3 linked regions of the Homo sapiens genome follow. The protein of the gene in region 3 purifies or fractionates together with the protein of the main gene of each other region. This does not show direct contact. Each region holds a gene or a part of one and is shown on either strand. Other genes may lie near its edges.

Evidence for each region.
Region 1: the proteins of ARF3 (region 3) and RAI1 purify together in Homo sapiens (affinity purification with mass spectrometry; one large-scale study listed by BioGRID and IntAct). This does not show direct contact.
Region 2: the proteins of ARF3 (region 3) and LOXL2 purify together in Homo sapiens (co-immunoprecipitation; one study listed by IntAct). This does not show direct contact.

What each region holds. Positions count from the first base shown.
Region 1 is NC_000017.11:17,806,131-17,810,543, reverse strand, and holds part of RAI1 (retinoic acid-induced protein 1), read right to left. Parts: intron 1,155-4,413; coding exon 1,105-1,154; intron 575-1,104; coding exon 563-574; 3' UTR 1-562. UniProt on the Homo sapiens protein: Transcriptional regulator of the circadian clock components: CLOCK, BMAL1, BMAL2, PER1/3, CRY1/2, NR1D1/2 and RORA/C. Positively regulates the transcriptional activity of CLOCK a core component of the circadian clock.
Region 2 is NC_000008.11:23,369,535-23,373,947, forward strand, and holds part of LOXL2 (lysyl oxidase homolog 2 precursor), read right to left. Parts: intron 1-4,413. UniProt on the Homo sapiens protein: Mediates the post-translational oxidative deamination of lysine residues on target proteins leading to the formation of deaminated lysine (allysine).
Region 3 is NC_000012.12:48,943,277-48,948,413, reverse strand, and holds part of ARF3 (ADP-ribosylation factor 3), read left to right. Parts: intron 1-5,137.

The DNA.
Region 1 (4,413 bases), on a different chromosome or scaffold from region 3:
TCCAGTGCCGGCCTAGCCCGCTCTCAGAAAGGCTTCCTTTCTCCCCCGCCTAGTCCACGGAGCTAGGAGCCGCCCTCCGCCTCTTCCAGTACTGTTTCGACCCCCACCCCCAAGCCCAGGGCTCCCAGCTGCACGCCACGACCGACTGGGGTGGCGGCAGCACCCACGTGGAATGTGTGCCACGTCGTCTTGAGATTCCAGAGGGAAAGTGTCCCCAGGACAAAGCCGTCTCCCACCCTCGCCGGAGGCTGAGCGCCCCGGGGAGTCTGGCCGCTCCGCGGGCTCCCCCTCCGCAAGCCTGGCCCCTGGGGTGGGCAAGAACGCCCTGTGCCGTCCGGTTCCGGGAGCAGGCGGCTCCGGAACGGGTTTTCCTCCCAACCCGGGGCCGCAAGTCTGAGCCCTAGGCGGCCGGATCCACGATCCGGGACCCGGATCAAGGATCGGCTCTGGACCAGCGCTGGGAGCAGCTCAAAGGCCCGGGGGCTGCGCAGGCGGCTCCTCTCCTTCGGCGGCGGGCGGGCAGGCGGGCTCCGGCGGCTCCTCCGGCCGTTGGGGTGGATTACTACGGCAGCCTCTGCAAAAGACGCCCGCCCGCCAGTTACCGACGACCTCGGACTTCACAGTCCATAGGCCCCGCCCCCAGTGTGGGCCCCCCGCCTAAGCCCCAGACCCAGGCGACCCCAGAGCGCGGCTGGGGTCTCCGCCCGAGGCCGTCGGCACCACCCCTTCTGGCCCCACCCCGTCCAGCTTCACCTTCACCTTCGCCTTCAGCTCCGTGCCACCGTCCCGCGCCCCCGCCTGCCCCACTCTGTCACCTATCTTGGGGAGCTGCAGGGAGGCCGTCCCAGGGACGCCCTCCAGCCCCTGGCTGCCCATGCCCCGACGCCTGCGGGTTTTCGGCGGCGGCGGCGCGCAAGTGGACAGGGACCTGAGCTGGACGGCGGCGGGGGCTCCTGGGGGTGGGCGGGGAGAGCTCCCTCCCCTAGGGCTGGGCCCTGCGGGGCTGCGCAGCCAAGGGGGCCCAGGGGACTGTGAAGGAGGTGCGAGGTGGGGCTCCTCTCCCGCTTGACACCCCTCGCCCTACAAAACACTGTGGTCCCCTACCTTATGTTTGGGACATTTCAAAGAAAAGTTCTCTTCGATGAATATGCAACCTGTGACCAAAGAGAAGTTTCGGTGGTTAGGACAGGGTGGGGGCCCCACAGCTGTGGGGTTTTGTCTGCAGCCAGGAGGGGAGCCGCACTGCCCGCGAGGCTCCAGACTGCAGGGGCTCTTTTCAAAGAGTTAATCAGATTCTGCACAAAACCCTCCACACTCCACTCCACTCCACGGCGCGGGTGCGGCCCCTGGCCTGGCAGTCTTGACTCACCTCACCTCCTCCGCGGAGAGCTTTTCCCCCTGAGTTCCACGTGCCGCCCCTCCTCACTTGAGGCAGTCCCTCAGTCCCTCCCTCCCTCCCGCCTTACTCTGCCAGCCACACTTGTCACTGCCTCCTAAGAGACTGGCCTGTGTGATCTTGTCTTGCTCCTTGTTTCTTCCCCACTGGCAGGCAAGCTCCCAGAGGGCACCAGCTCTGTCTTCTTCCCTGGATGTATGCCCAGCCCCTGGAAGAGCTCACTAACTTCCAGTGAGCATGTCATGAACCCCTGTGGACGGACTGGTAGTGGTGTTGCAAGCCTGGATTTGAGCATCTGCTACTTCTCTGAGCCTCAGTCTCCACATCTGTAAAATGGGCATTATGCCACCTACTGTATGCCTATCATGGAGATTGAGGATGGGAGTGTATAGAAACCATCTTGGCAGCAGCAGTGGCTCATGTCTGTAATCCCAGCACTTTGGGAGGATGAGGTGAATGAATCGCTTGAGCCCAGGAGTTCAAGACCAGCCTGGGCAACATGGCAAAACCTCATCTCTATCAAAAATACAAAAATTAGCCAGCATGGTGGCGCATGCCTGTAGTCCCAGCTACTCGAGAGGCTGGGGCGGGAGGATCACTTGAGCCTGGGAGGCGGAGGTTGCAGTGAGCTGTGATTGTACCACTGCACCCCTGCCTGGGCAACACAGCCAGGCCCTGTCTGAGATGAAATAAAATAAAATAAAATAAAATAAAATAAAATAAAATAAAATAATAAAATAAAATAAAATAAAATAAAATAATAAAATAAAATATAAAATAAAATAAAATTTAAAAATAAACCACCCTGCACATGTGTGGCATGCAGTGGGCGCAGGAGGCAGGGGCAGAGAGGACAACCAAGCATGGCCAGTGCTTATGCCCACCTAGGCCCAGGAGGTGTTGCTATCTCAGGGAGTCTCCACTCCCCTGCCTACTGCCACCTAGGGAGAAGCTGGCTTTTCCCCCAGGGACCCCCCAGTCTCTAGTCCCCTTCTCGGCTCCCCTCCCCCAAAGCCTCACCAGCCACTGTTCTGAACAAACCCCAGACCCAAAAGTAGCTGGAGGCTGGTGCTCTCTCCAACACAATCTTCCTGTTCACACTGGAGGTGGCTCTGTGCAATGGCATCATGACAGGGTGGTGGCCAGAAGGCAGGGCAGGGACAGCTCTGCAGCCCTGAGGGCAGGGCTGGGTGGTAGCAGGCCTCTCTGAGGCGATCTGCCCTTGTCTCCAGAAGCTGGAGTGCCACGGACCTGGAAACTGCCATTCAGGGCCAGCAGCTAGAGATGTGCCACGGCTGTTCCCCTTCCCTTGGCTCAGGCAAGCCAGATGTGGTTCTGGGGCTGAACTAGATATTCCAAAGACACTAGGCTAAAATCCCAGGCCTGCCCCTGGCACGCCTGGGTAGCTGCGGGCACTCCCACCAAGGGAAGTTGAGGGTAGGAGGTCGCCACTTCCAAACTGGCTCCCTCAGCACTGCCCCAGCACCACCCCACATGGGGCACGGGGCGGGAGTCACTGGGCAAGGCCAGTCCTCAGTGATCTGGCTCCTGACCTGGTGCCTGCACCTGGGGAACCTGGGCACTCACTGACAGGTTGGCCCCAGGGCCTGAGTGGGGAAAGGTTGAGACAGGACACTGTGGTGTAGCAGCCTCTGCCTGCTCTTCAGTCACTGCTTGTCTCCAAAGTGGGTTCCTTAACAAGAATTGGAAGGGGGCAGGATGAGTAGGCCAGGACAGCGCAGTGCAGGGCAGAGGCTGGCAGCCAGTGGGCAGCCCTGGTGCCCTGCAGTCCCAGTGCCTGACACAGAGGCCTGGGGCTCCTCCCTGGCCAGACATCAGATCAGCCTGACCAGCCCACTCCCTCAGTGCCCTCTCACTCCCACCCCCCCGCCCCCCCCACCGCCTGGCTGGCAGAGTCACGCTGGGGGCCCTCCCTGCACCCCAAGCGCCCGTCCTCCCCGCCTTCACTCTCGAGCTCACTTGTTCTCCCTCGCCTTCTCTGGCAGCTGTTCCTCAGTTTCCCAGGGGTCCACCCTCCTCCTCAGCCAGCTGTTCCATGGTGAACACAACCCTGCTATTTTGTCCCTTCCAGGGCTCTGATGAGCCCTCGCCTGCTGATGGTGGGCGAGACTCGATCCTGAGCCCAGCTATCTACACTTTGTATGTCCACAGCTGCCTCTACTGCCGTGTGGCCAAAGGGAACTGCCGTGTGTGTAGATGGCCTGGCAGAGCAGCCCAGTCCCCTCCCCGCACCCAGGTCCTTTGTGGTGTGGCTCTGCAGCTCACCCCAGGTGGCCTGCACTTCTCTGTGCTGGACTTGGGACCTGCTTTGGCTAACAGAACGTGGTAAAGTCCAGGACCTAGGCTGTGAGTGGCCCTGTGACCTCCACTCTCTCAAAGCCCTGGGGCTGCCATGAGGACGCACCCAGGCCAGCCTGCTGGAGGATGAGAGATTGATGGAGCAAAGACAAGCTGGCACAGCTGGGGCCACCCTAGATCATCCTGCTCCCAGCAGAGCCTGCAGCCAACTCACGCCCTTTTGAGAACTAATGAAGGGCTGGTGCTGGAGACATGAAGCTGGGCCTGGAAGGGCCAGTAGCTCTGCAGCAGCAGCTAATACTCCATTTGCACGTCCACACCCTACTTCTCCCCTTCATGGGGAAGCTGGGCATCAGGCTTGTCACCTCCCTCTCCCTCATCATCAAGTCCCATGGATTCTGTGCCAACTCAGTCTCTGAGGTGTATGTCTCCATTTGCAGCATTCCCAGTCCCTTTCCTGCCTCAATCTTCACGGTGCTACAGGGATCCCTGTTATATGAGGAATCCTTCTAGGATTTTATCTGAAATAAAAGTTCTCTTGCTCAAAGCCTAGTATACAAGTCCCACCACTAAACAGTTGCTACAAAGCTCCCCCGATCTTTTGAGGCCTGGCTTAAATGTCACCTCCTCCTGGAAGTCTTCCTAGATTTCTCCCTTGTTCAGACAGGATGAACCTCTTCCACAGTGCATACTCTCTC
Region 2 (4,413 bases), on a different chromosome or scaffold from region 3:
TTTCCTGTAGTCAGAGCTGTCCAGAGCTGCCCATGGAGGGATGATCTGCCTTGGAGTGAGGCAGTTCCATGTCTGTTGGGTGACCAGCAGTGCTCAGTGCCCCGAAGAGGATGCTGGGGTGGAGATGTTAGAGCCTGGGGGACAGTCAGAACTGAGGATTTTGGAAAGCTTTCTGATGTCACCGGAGAGCCAGCCATGCTCATCCTGTGACTAACAAACAAGGCCAGAAAGTGATGGAGGGTTCCTGTGATAGCTCCTGACCAACGGACCAACGCACAGCCTGACCCCCTAGTAGTGTGGCTCTGAAGGGAATCAGGGTCCTGGCCACTCATCATTCCCATCAAAGCACATCTGCATCCTCAAGCTTACCTATGCCTCACAAGAACCTTGGGGAGTAGAAGAGGCAGGTATTATTAGGATTCTTATTTTACAACAAAATCAAGAACCAGAGAGGGTTAGAGATTTTGCCAGAGTTGCACAGTTACTGCAAGCAAAGCCAGAATGGGTCACTCCCAATGTGCCATCCCATATAAAAAGTCCTGGTTCAGCTTGGATACAAAAGCCTTTATGTGTGGCACGTGCCTACCTTCCCTGCTTCGGTTCCCACGACGGTGTCTCCCTTCTCTCACCCCAGCCCTGCCCATGGCACACATCCCATCATATCAGCCTATACCAGCTTCAGCTTTTGACACCTAGAACAACGCGCCTCCATCCCCTCCCCTCCCCTCCAAATGGCACCTGGTGCAATCCTTCCTGTTCTTCACAGAGACCTTCCTAGGTCCTCCTATCAGATTGAATGTATTTCTGCTTCCCTTTGACATCACATTTTGCTGGTGCTTTACATTGTTGTCATGTCTGGCTCTGCCACCGGACCCTCAGGCCCAAGGGACAGAAACCACCTCTTTGTCATTTCTGCTCAGCAACACATCTGCCTCTGGATGTATCAGGCTACCTTGCAGTAGATAAAGCTACCTGCCAAGAACAACTAGAAAAGGAAGGTAAAATATTAAAAACATATGTTCGAAGACACGAGAAAGCTACCGAGGCACCAAGGACTGAAGGAACCAAGAATCCAGAGAGATGGGAAGGGCATTGAGGTGAGGCTCACTTTTGTCTCTGCTTTCCCCCGGAAGATACTCGCCAATTCCACGGCAGTGATCAACAGGCTGAGAAGCTAAGCAAAGCTGCAGGCAGCCTCCAGGGACTGGGGAGACCGGGAGTTCAGAACCTGCCAAGGACAAAGGGACCTGTTAAACAGCTCCAGGCTCTCAGATGCATTCCTGAAGAGCTGCACTCTAGAAGCCAGGGCATAGGAAGGTCTGACATTCCCATAAATGGAATCCCAAAGAAGAGGAGAGAAAGGATGTGCAGAGGAAATAATGGAAGAAATAATGGCCTAGAATTTTCCAGAATGACAAAAGACATCAAGCCCACACAGTATAGTTTACAAGGAAAACCACATCTGGGCACATCGAAATCCAACTGCAGAGAAGACAAGATAGAAAGAAAAATCTTAAACACAGGGTAGAGGAGCTGAGTTACCTTAGAAAGAGCAGCAGAAAGACTAACAGCTGGTCCCCTCAACACAAATAAGGAGACAAGACTTCAACAGCGCAACATTTTCAAAGGGCGGAAAAAAATAAGTCTGCCTAGAATCTGTGCCCAGTGAAGAGAACGAAGGTAAAATAAGGACATCCCAGATAAACAAAAGAGGAGCGAGTCTGTCACCAGAATACCCACAAGACGGAAATACTACAGGGAATTCTTCAGGCAAAAGGAAAAATCATCCCAGATGTCAGTAAGGAGGCGTAGGAAGGAATGAAGAGTATGAAGTAGGAAATGATGTAGGTAAATCTCAATGAAGATCGAGTGTGTAAAACAGGAAGAATGTCCTGTGGGGTTTAAAATACATGTATGATTAAAATGCATGGCAACTGGCTGGGTGCAGTGGCTCACGCCTGTAATCCCAGCACTTTGGGAGGCTGAGGCGGGCGGATCACAAGGTCAGGAGATCAAGCCCATCCCGGCTAACACGGTGAAACCCCGTCTCTACTAAAAATACAAAAAATTAGCCGGGCATGGTGGCGGGCACCTGTAGTCCCAGCTACTCGGGAGGCTGAGGCAGGAGAATGGCGTGAACCCAGGAGGTGGAGGTTGCAGTGAGCCGAGGTCACGCCACTGCACTCCAGCCTGGGCGAAAGAGTGAGAGTCTGTCTCAAAAAAAAAAAAAAAAAAAAAAAAAAAAAAAAAATGCATGGCAAGCGCAGCACGAAAGGCAGGAAGGCATTAAATGGAGCTCAAGTGGTTTGAGGTTCTTGTGTTGTCTGGGAAGTGGTAAAAGTACTATTGTCTATTAGACTTTAGCAAGTCTAATAAATGCATGTTGTAATCTTTATAGGAATCATTGTAAGAACCATATACTGAAAGAAAAGTACAACTAACAGGTTAATAAGGGGGTTTGGGGGAGAAATGGTAGAATTAAAAAATACTTGATTAATCCAAAATTGAAGCAATAAAACAAATAAAAAGTAACATAAAACAATTGTTACAAATAGAAAAAATATTAGATGGTGGGTTTAAACTCCAATATATCAGTAATTACATTAGATAAAATAAATACTCCAATTAAAAGACAAAGATCATCAGAACGAATATAACAAAACAATTCAGCTTTACATTTCTTTTTCTTTTTTTTTTTTGAGATGGAGTCTTGCTCTGTTGCCCAGGCTGGAGTGTGCAGTGGCGCGATCTCAGCTCACTGCAACCACTGCCTCCTGGGTTCAAGCGATTCTCCTGCCTTAGCCCCTCGAGTAGCTGGGATTCCAGGCATGTACCACCACGCCTGGCCAATTTTTGTATTTTGAGTAGAGATGGGGTTTCACCATGTTGGCCAGGCTGGTCTCAAACCCCTGACCTCAAGTGATCCATCCGCCTCAGCCTCCCAAAGTGCTGGGATTACAGGTGTGAGCCACCACGCCCAGCCCAATCCAGCTTTATATTTCTTAGAAGAGACACAGAGGCTTAATGTAAAAGGATGGAAACAGATATACCATGCGTACATTAACCAGAGGGAAACTTGTACGATCAAGCTGACCTTAACACAAGAAACATTACCAGAGACAAAAAGGGACAGTTTACGATAATGAAAGTCAATCCACCAGGATAATGTAACTCTTCTAAACGTACGTGCATAGCTTCAATATATATAAAAGAAATATTGATAGAACTAAAAGGAAAAAATAGACAAATTCATAATCAGAGTGGGAGATTTTTACACACCTCTGTCAGTAACGGATAGAAGACACAGAAAAATCCTGGGGTTGAAGATGTGAATGACATAATTAACAAACTTAACCTAATTCACAAGTTTCTATAAACTGTACTCAGCAACTGCAGAAGGCAGCTATGCTCCAGGGACACATGGAACATATAATGATACAAACATATTAAGATATTAAGATACAATGATATTATGCAGAATATGTTGTTTGACTACAACAGAATTCAGCTATAAACCATTAATAAAAGAACAAGTAGAAAATCCCCAAATATTTGGGAATGTTGGATGAGGAAATCTATTATCATGCATCTCCATCCAGCTCACAGTACTAAATTGATTTATTCATTCAACAAGAATTCATTGAGCTCCTACTATACCTCAGGCCCTGCTGGGAGTAGAGGTCTTCTTTCCCATGGAGCTGACTGCCTAGCTGGAGTTCGCCTACAAGGTATCAATGATTGTTCATGGTCTGAACTACCTGAGCCAGCGGAGGGGGGGCCTAACTTTGAATTCAGGAAGGTTTTCCTCTTCTACACTGCCTGGCAGGGTCTTGCCGTGTCACCCAGGCTGAAGTGCAGTGGCGTGATCATAGCTCACCGCAGCCTCGAACTCTTGAGCCCAAGAGATCCTCCTACTCAGCTGCCCGTGTAGCTGGAACTACAGGCAAGAGCCACCATGCCTAGCTAAGTTTTTGGGTTGCTTTTTAATTTTTAAATGTATCCATCTTGTGGAAATTAAAGACAGAAAGCCAATGAATTGCCAAAGGTCACACAGAGTGCTTGGCAAGCAGCTAACATTAATAGAGCACCCCCATGTGCAGGCACTGTTCTCAACGCTCTAGTGTTTTAATTCACTTGATGTGGTAGGCACTGTTATTATCCTTGGGAGGAAACTGAGGGACAGAGAAGTTTGATAACTTGCCTAAAGTTGCGCAGACGGTAAATGCAAGCCAGGATCTGAAGGTGGTGGCAGGCTGACCTGGGCTCTGTCCCCCACCGCGAAGCTCTACTACCCCCAGCCTGGCACTGTCTCTCTCCCTCCCCTGACTTTCCCACCCCCATCCCCCAAGGGCTTCAGAGACTTCCAGATCCTCTAATCCTGTCCCAGAAAGAAATGAAAAAAATATGTGGTCT
Region 3 (5,137 bases):
GCTGCGTCACGATGATTTGGGCCCGTAGGTCTTTTTAGCTACTGGGGAAGCTGAGGCAGTAGGATTGTTTGAGCCCAGGATTTGGATGCTGCAGTGAGCCTGGGTGACAGAGTGAGACCTCATCTCTTTAAAAAAAAAAAAAAGATTATATAAATTTTTTTAAAGTGCTATCTGAAACTTAGGTCTTTTTTTCTTTTTCTTTTTTTTGAGACATATTCTCTCACTCTGTCACCTGGGCTGGAGTGCAGTGGCGTGATCATGGCTCACTGCAGCCACAACTTCCTGGGCTCAGGTGATTCTCTTGTCTCAGCCTCCTGAGTAGTTGGGACTACAGGCGTGCACCACCACACCCAGCTTTTTTTTTTTTTTTTGTAGCGATGGGCTTTTGCCATGTTGCCCAGGCTGGCCTTGAACTCCTGGCCTCAGGCAATCTTCTTGCATCAGCCTCCCAAAGTGCTGGGATTACAGGTGTGTCCTGCTGTGCCTGGCTCAGTCTTTATGCCTTTGCACACACTTCCCCTGCCCAACTCCCTCTTTATTGTCTGATTACTTCCTCGTCTTCCTTTAGGAGCCAGCTCAGGTATGACCTGAGAATTAGGTTTCAGAATCACCCTTTACCCTTCAGTGTTGATTTACTGCTCCAGCTTTCTGTTCACATAATACTATGTGCTTTACTCTTACTCTCACACTGTTTTGTAGTCCTGTCTTCACTAGTCTTTTCCATTAAAGACTGAGTTTCATGAAGGCAGAAACTGTCTCCCTCTCTGTATCCCTAGTTCAGTATGCCCAATAAATGTTTGATGAATGAGGCCAGGCACGGTGGCCCACGCCTGTAATCCCAGCACTTTGGGGGGCAGAGGTGGGCAGATCACAAGGTCAGGAGATCAAGACCATCCTGGTTAACATGGTGAAATCCTGTCTCTACTAAAAATGCAAAAAATTAGCCAGGTGTGGTGGCATGCGCCTGTAGTCCCATCTACTCGGGAGGCTGAGGCAGGAGAATCGCTTGAACTTGGGAGGCGGAGGTTGCAGTGAGCCGAGATTGCGCCACTGCACCCCAGCCTGGGCGAGAGAGCGAGATTGTCTCAAAAAAAAAAAAAAAAAAAAAGTTTGATGAATGGATGAAAGCTGGTATCAGAAGCTATTTCTTAACTTTGGGAAATCTTTAAGTCTAGTCGAAATAGTTCAGATATCATCTAGGAGTTCTTATGTTCTGATTTCAGTGCTCTTGAGACAAAAACTTGGAGTTTACACAGGTCACGAGCCAGCTGCACCAAGAAAACTCAGTACGGGCGTACTCTGCTTTTGTTTCTTTAAATTGTATTGGTCTGTTTGGTTAGCTGTGCTAAAAATAGCATCTCTTAGTGATATTTCAATTTGAAAATTATCTAAGAACAAAGCTGTTTTTACTGCACTCTGCCTGGCAGCAGAGGGTTTGGGAGACCCTGGTCTTCCTTCCCCTGGACGCTGAAGAGGAGGAGGTAGTGCCAGATCAGGAGTCCCCTCAGAGGTGTCTCATAGCACATTCTTGGATCATTCACTGGAATCAGGTAGAGGGAGTATGTGTGGCCGACTGGGATGTGTGACTCTCAAAAGCACCTGGAGATTGAGGCAGGCACGTTCCTGCAACATATGTAAGGAAAGATGGCTGAGTAGCCAGTTACAGCAACAGCCTGCTTCTCCTGGGGGGATGAGGTGGGAGCAGTGAGTTGTCCTCAAGTGAGGATATCCTTAGATGAGGCTTAAATCAACTGATGTGCTTAACTGAATTCCTACAGTGTCCCACACAGATTGTACTAGAGCACATATTTGGGTTCCTATTGTTATTTTTACCTGTGATAATAAAGTTTCTGACTGTAAAACAGAACCTGCAGATATCTTTTTAACAGAGATGTTAGTATATTCCATTTTTCATCTTGAGCCACTCACTTTCAGTCTTAACTGCTTATTCTTGGTATCCAACAGCCAATGGAACCCTGGCATTTTGCCCTATAAACACAGGAGTACCATCTGTGGTGAAAGAGAGTAACTATAGGCTATATAATACATGGAGAAACAATTCATGGTTTGTTTGCTTTGCCATTCTGCTTCCTAGTGCTTTTTTAGGAATGTATTGTGAAAGTGAGAATAGGCTGTATAGCCAGAGATTTGTATTCATGGCACAAAGCAGAAAGCTGCTACCATCTTGGTGGTAGGGCAGCATGCTCTCTGGTATTAGCAAGGGACAGGGAAAACCAAGACAAGAAAGCCAGCATCCCCTTTGAAATGCTCATTTAAGTCAAGCTCCAGATTATACTTAAAGAAAAGTCATGGCCAGACGTGGTGGGTCGTGCCTGTAATCCCAGCACTTCAGGAGGCCAAGGCAGGTGGATTGCTTGAGGCCAGGAGTTTGAGACCAGCCTGGCCAGCATGGCAAAACCCCGTCTCTACTAAAAATATAAAAATTAGCAAGGCATGGTGGCACATGCCTGTAATCCCAGCTACTCGGGAGGCTGAGGCACAAGAATCACTTGAACTTGGGAGGCAGAAGTTGCAGTGAGCAACCTCTGCCTCTGCACTCCAGCCTGGGTGACAGAGCGAGACTGTCTCAAAAAAAATAAATAAATAAAGAGGAGGAGTCATAACATCCATTAGTTTCAAGGTCCTGGGCTGTGCCAGGGAGATACATGATAGCTACTGGATATTTATTTTTTGAGATGGAGTCTCAGTGTTACACAGGCTGGAGTGCAGTGGCGTGATCTCGGCTCACTGCAACCTCTGCTTCCTGGGTTCAAGCGATTCTCCTGCCTGAGCCTCTGGAGTAGCTGGTGCTACAAGCATGTACCACCACGCCCAGCTAATTTTTTTTTTTGAGACAGAGTCTTGCTGTTGTCTGCCCGGGCTGGAGTGTGATGGCATGATATCGACTCGCTGCAACCTCCACCTCCCAGGTTCCAGCAATTCTCCTGCCTCAGCCTCCCGAGTAGCCACCACACCCGGCTAATTTTTTTGTATTTTTAGCAGAGACAGGGTTTCACTGTATTAGCCAGGATGGTCTCGATCTCCTGACCTCGTGTTCCGCCCGCCTTGGCCTCCCAGAGTGCTGGGATTACAGGTGTGAGCCACCGCACCCGGCCAATTTTTGGGTTTTTAATAGAGACGGGGTTTCACCATGTTGGCCAGGCTGGTCTCGAACTCCTGACCTCAGGTGATCCACCCACCTCAGCCTCCCAAAGTGCTGGGATTACAGGCGTGAGCCACTGTGCCCGGCCTTTTTTTTTTTTTTTTTTTTTTAAGACAGAGTCTTCCTCTGTCAACCAGGCTGGAGTGCCAGCGGCATGATCTCAGCTCACTGTAACCTCTGCCTCCTGGATTCCAGCGGTTCTCCTGCCTCGGCTTCCTGAGTACAGGCGCGCACCACCATGCCCAGCTAATTTTTATATTTTTAATAGAGATGGGGCTTCACCATGTTGGCCAGGCTGGTGTCAAACTCCCAGCCTCAGGTGATACGCCCACCTCAGCCTCCCAAAGTGCTGGGATTACAGGCATGAGCCACCATGCCTGGCCAGCTATTTAGATATTTTATCAGTTATTCATCAGTCCCACTGTATATTAAATGGCAAGAGAGAATCCCACCAATTCTAGTCTTCTAGTCCTTTTATGTTGTTCCCAAACCAGTCCTGCGTCAAATATGTGTGGAAAATGGCTGAGAATGGACAGGATAGCTAAGCAACTCGCTGTGCATTACACAGAGATACCAAATCCTACTGGACAGAAGAAATAATATAAGGACATCCTCAGATGAGGCTTAAATCAGCCAATGTGCTTAATTGAACTCCCACAATCTACTTGGCACTAGAGGGAGGACAGATTCAAAATAAGTAGACATAGTCTTTGCACATAGGGAATACACAGCTTAACGTGGGAAGCAGTAAATACACAGACTTATAAAAGAAGAAAAACTCGACAAGGTAGTAAGTGCCACATTGAGTGGTTAAGGTCATTCAAAGTAAGGCCTTGATGTGGCATGCCAGGAAATAATAGGTGTAACACTGGGATCAGCTTTTGAACCAGGACTTCAGCATGACAGCCGAGCAAAGAAGCAAATCAAAGGACAGTGTACCTGTGTTCTGGGGCAAGGCATATTGGCTAGTTATATCTTTTTCAGCCACCACTATACTCACAGTTGGTAAGCATTTAATCAGCAATAGTTTCAGTCATAAAGGACAGCAAGATAAATGTGTGGCATAAATTTAATTCAGAATCTGGGCCAAAGCCTGATACCAAACCTTTAAAGCAAAGTGTCATCTGGAGCTGAAGGAAAGGCTGCCTGAGCAAGAGGCAGAATAAAGGCTAGAAGACTAGGAAGACTTGGGAAAGGTTTAAATTTCATGAGGTGTTAGTAGTATGACCAAAAGTCACTACTACAAATTGCCAAGGTTGGTGAGAGCTGTTCTTAGCTGGGTAGGTCGCTCAGGGGTCCTCAGGAGTCTGTCCACCTGGGTGGGTTGAGGCAGGAAGAGTAGGGAGGAAGGCTAGCGGGTGGCTTGACTGAAGTTGAACCCTAAGGTTGAGCTAGCCCTTCTTCCTGGTGTGTGAACCCTCTAGGTCAGGGGTAGGGCTCATCTGGGGAACCTACTGAGAGTGCCACGCCTGGCTCATTAGTGGCTGTCTGGGGAGGCCTTTTGAAGATGAAACACTTCATAAGCACTCATTGTTTCTGTTTTTTCGGACAAACTAGTACTTTGGTCTTCAGGGACTGTTGATCTGGCTCAGTTGCACTAGTCTGGAATTTGCTGCAAACTGAGAAGGGTGGTGGGGGAAATGTCAGAAGTTTTTGTAAAAACAACCAAACTCCCACCAAACCCCCATGCGTTAGCTTGTAAATAGGATTCCTCCCCGTCCACCTTTCACATTCTTGGGTTTGGGCGCACTTTGTCTTGACCTGTCCCTTTGGCTGCTGAGTTTGGGGTGTGTGTGTGTCTCTGGTTCCCAGACTCTAGAGAATGCCAGCAGCTGGCATATGGTGATTGCTGAATAAGCTGCCCGCTGACACATGCCTCCTGCAGGCACAGAGAACTGGTTTGTATGGGTGATTCTGAATCCTCATTTTATTATTGTTTCAAAGATGCATTTCTGTGGCTATCCTGTGCCATAG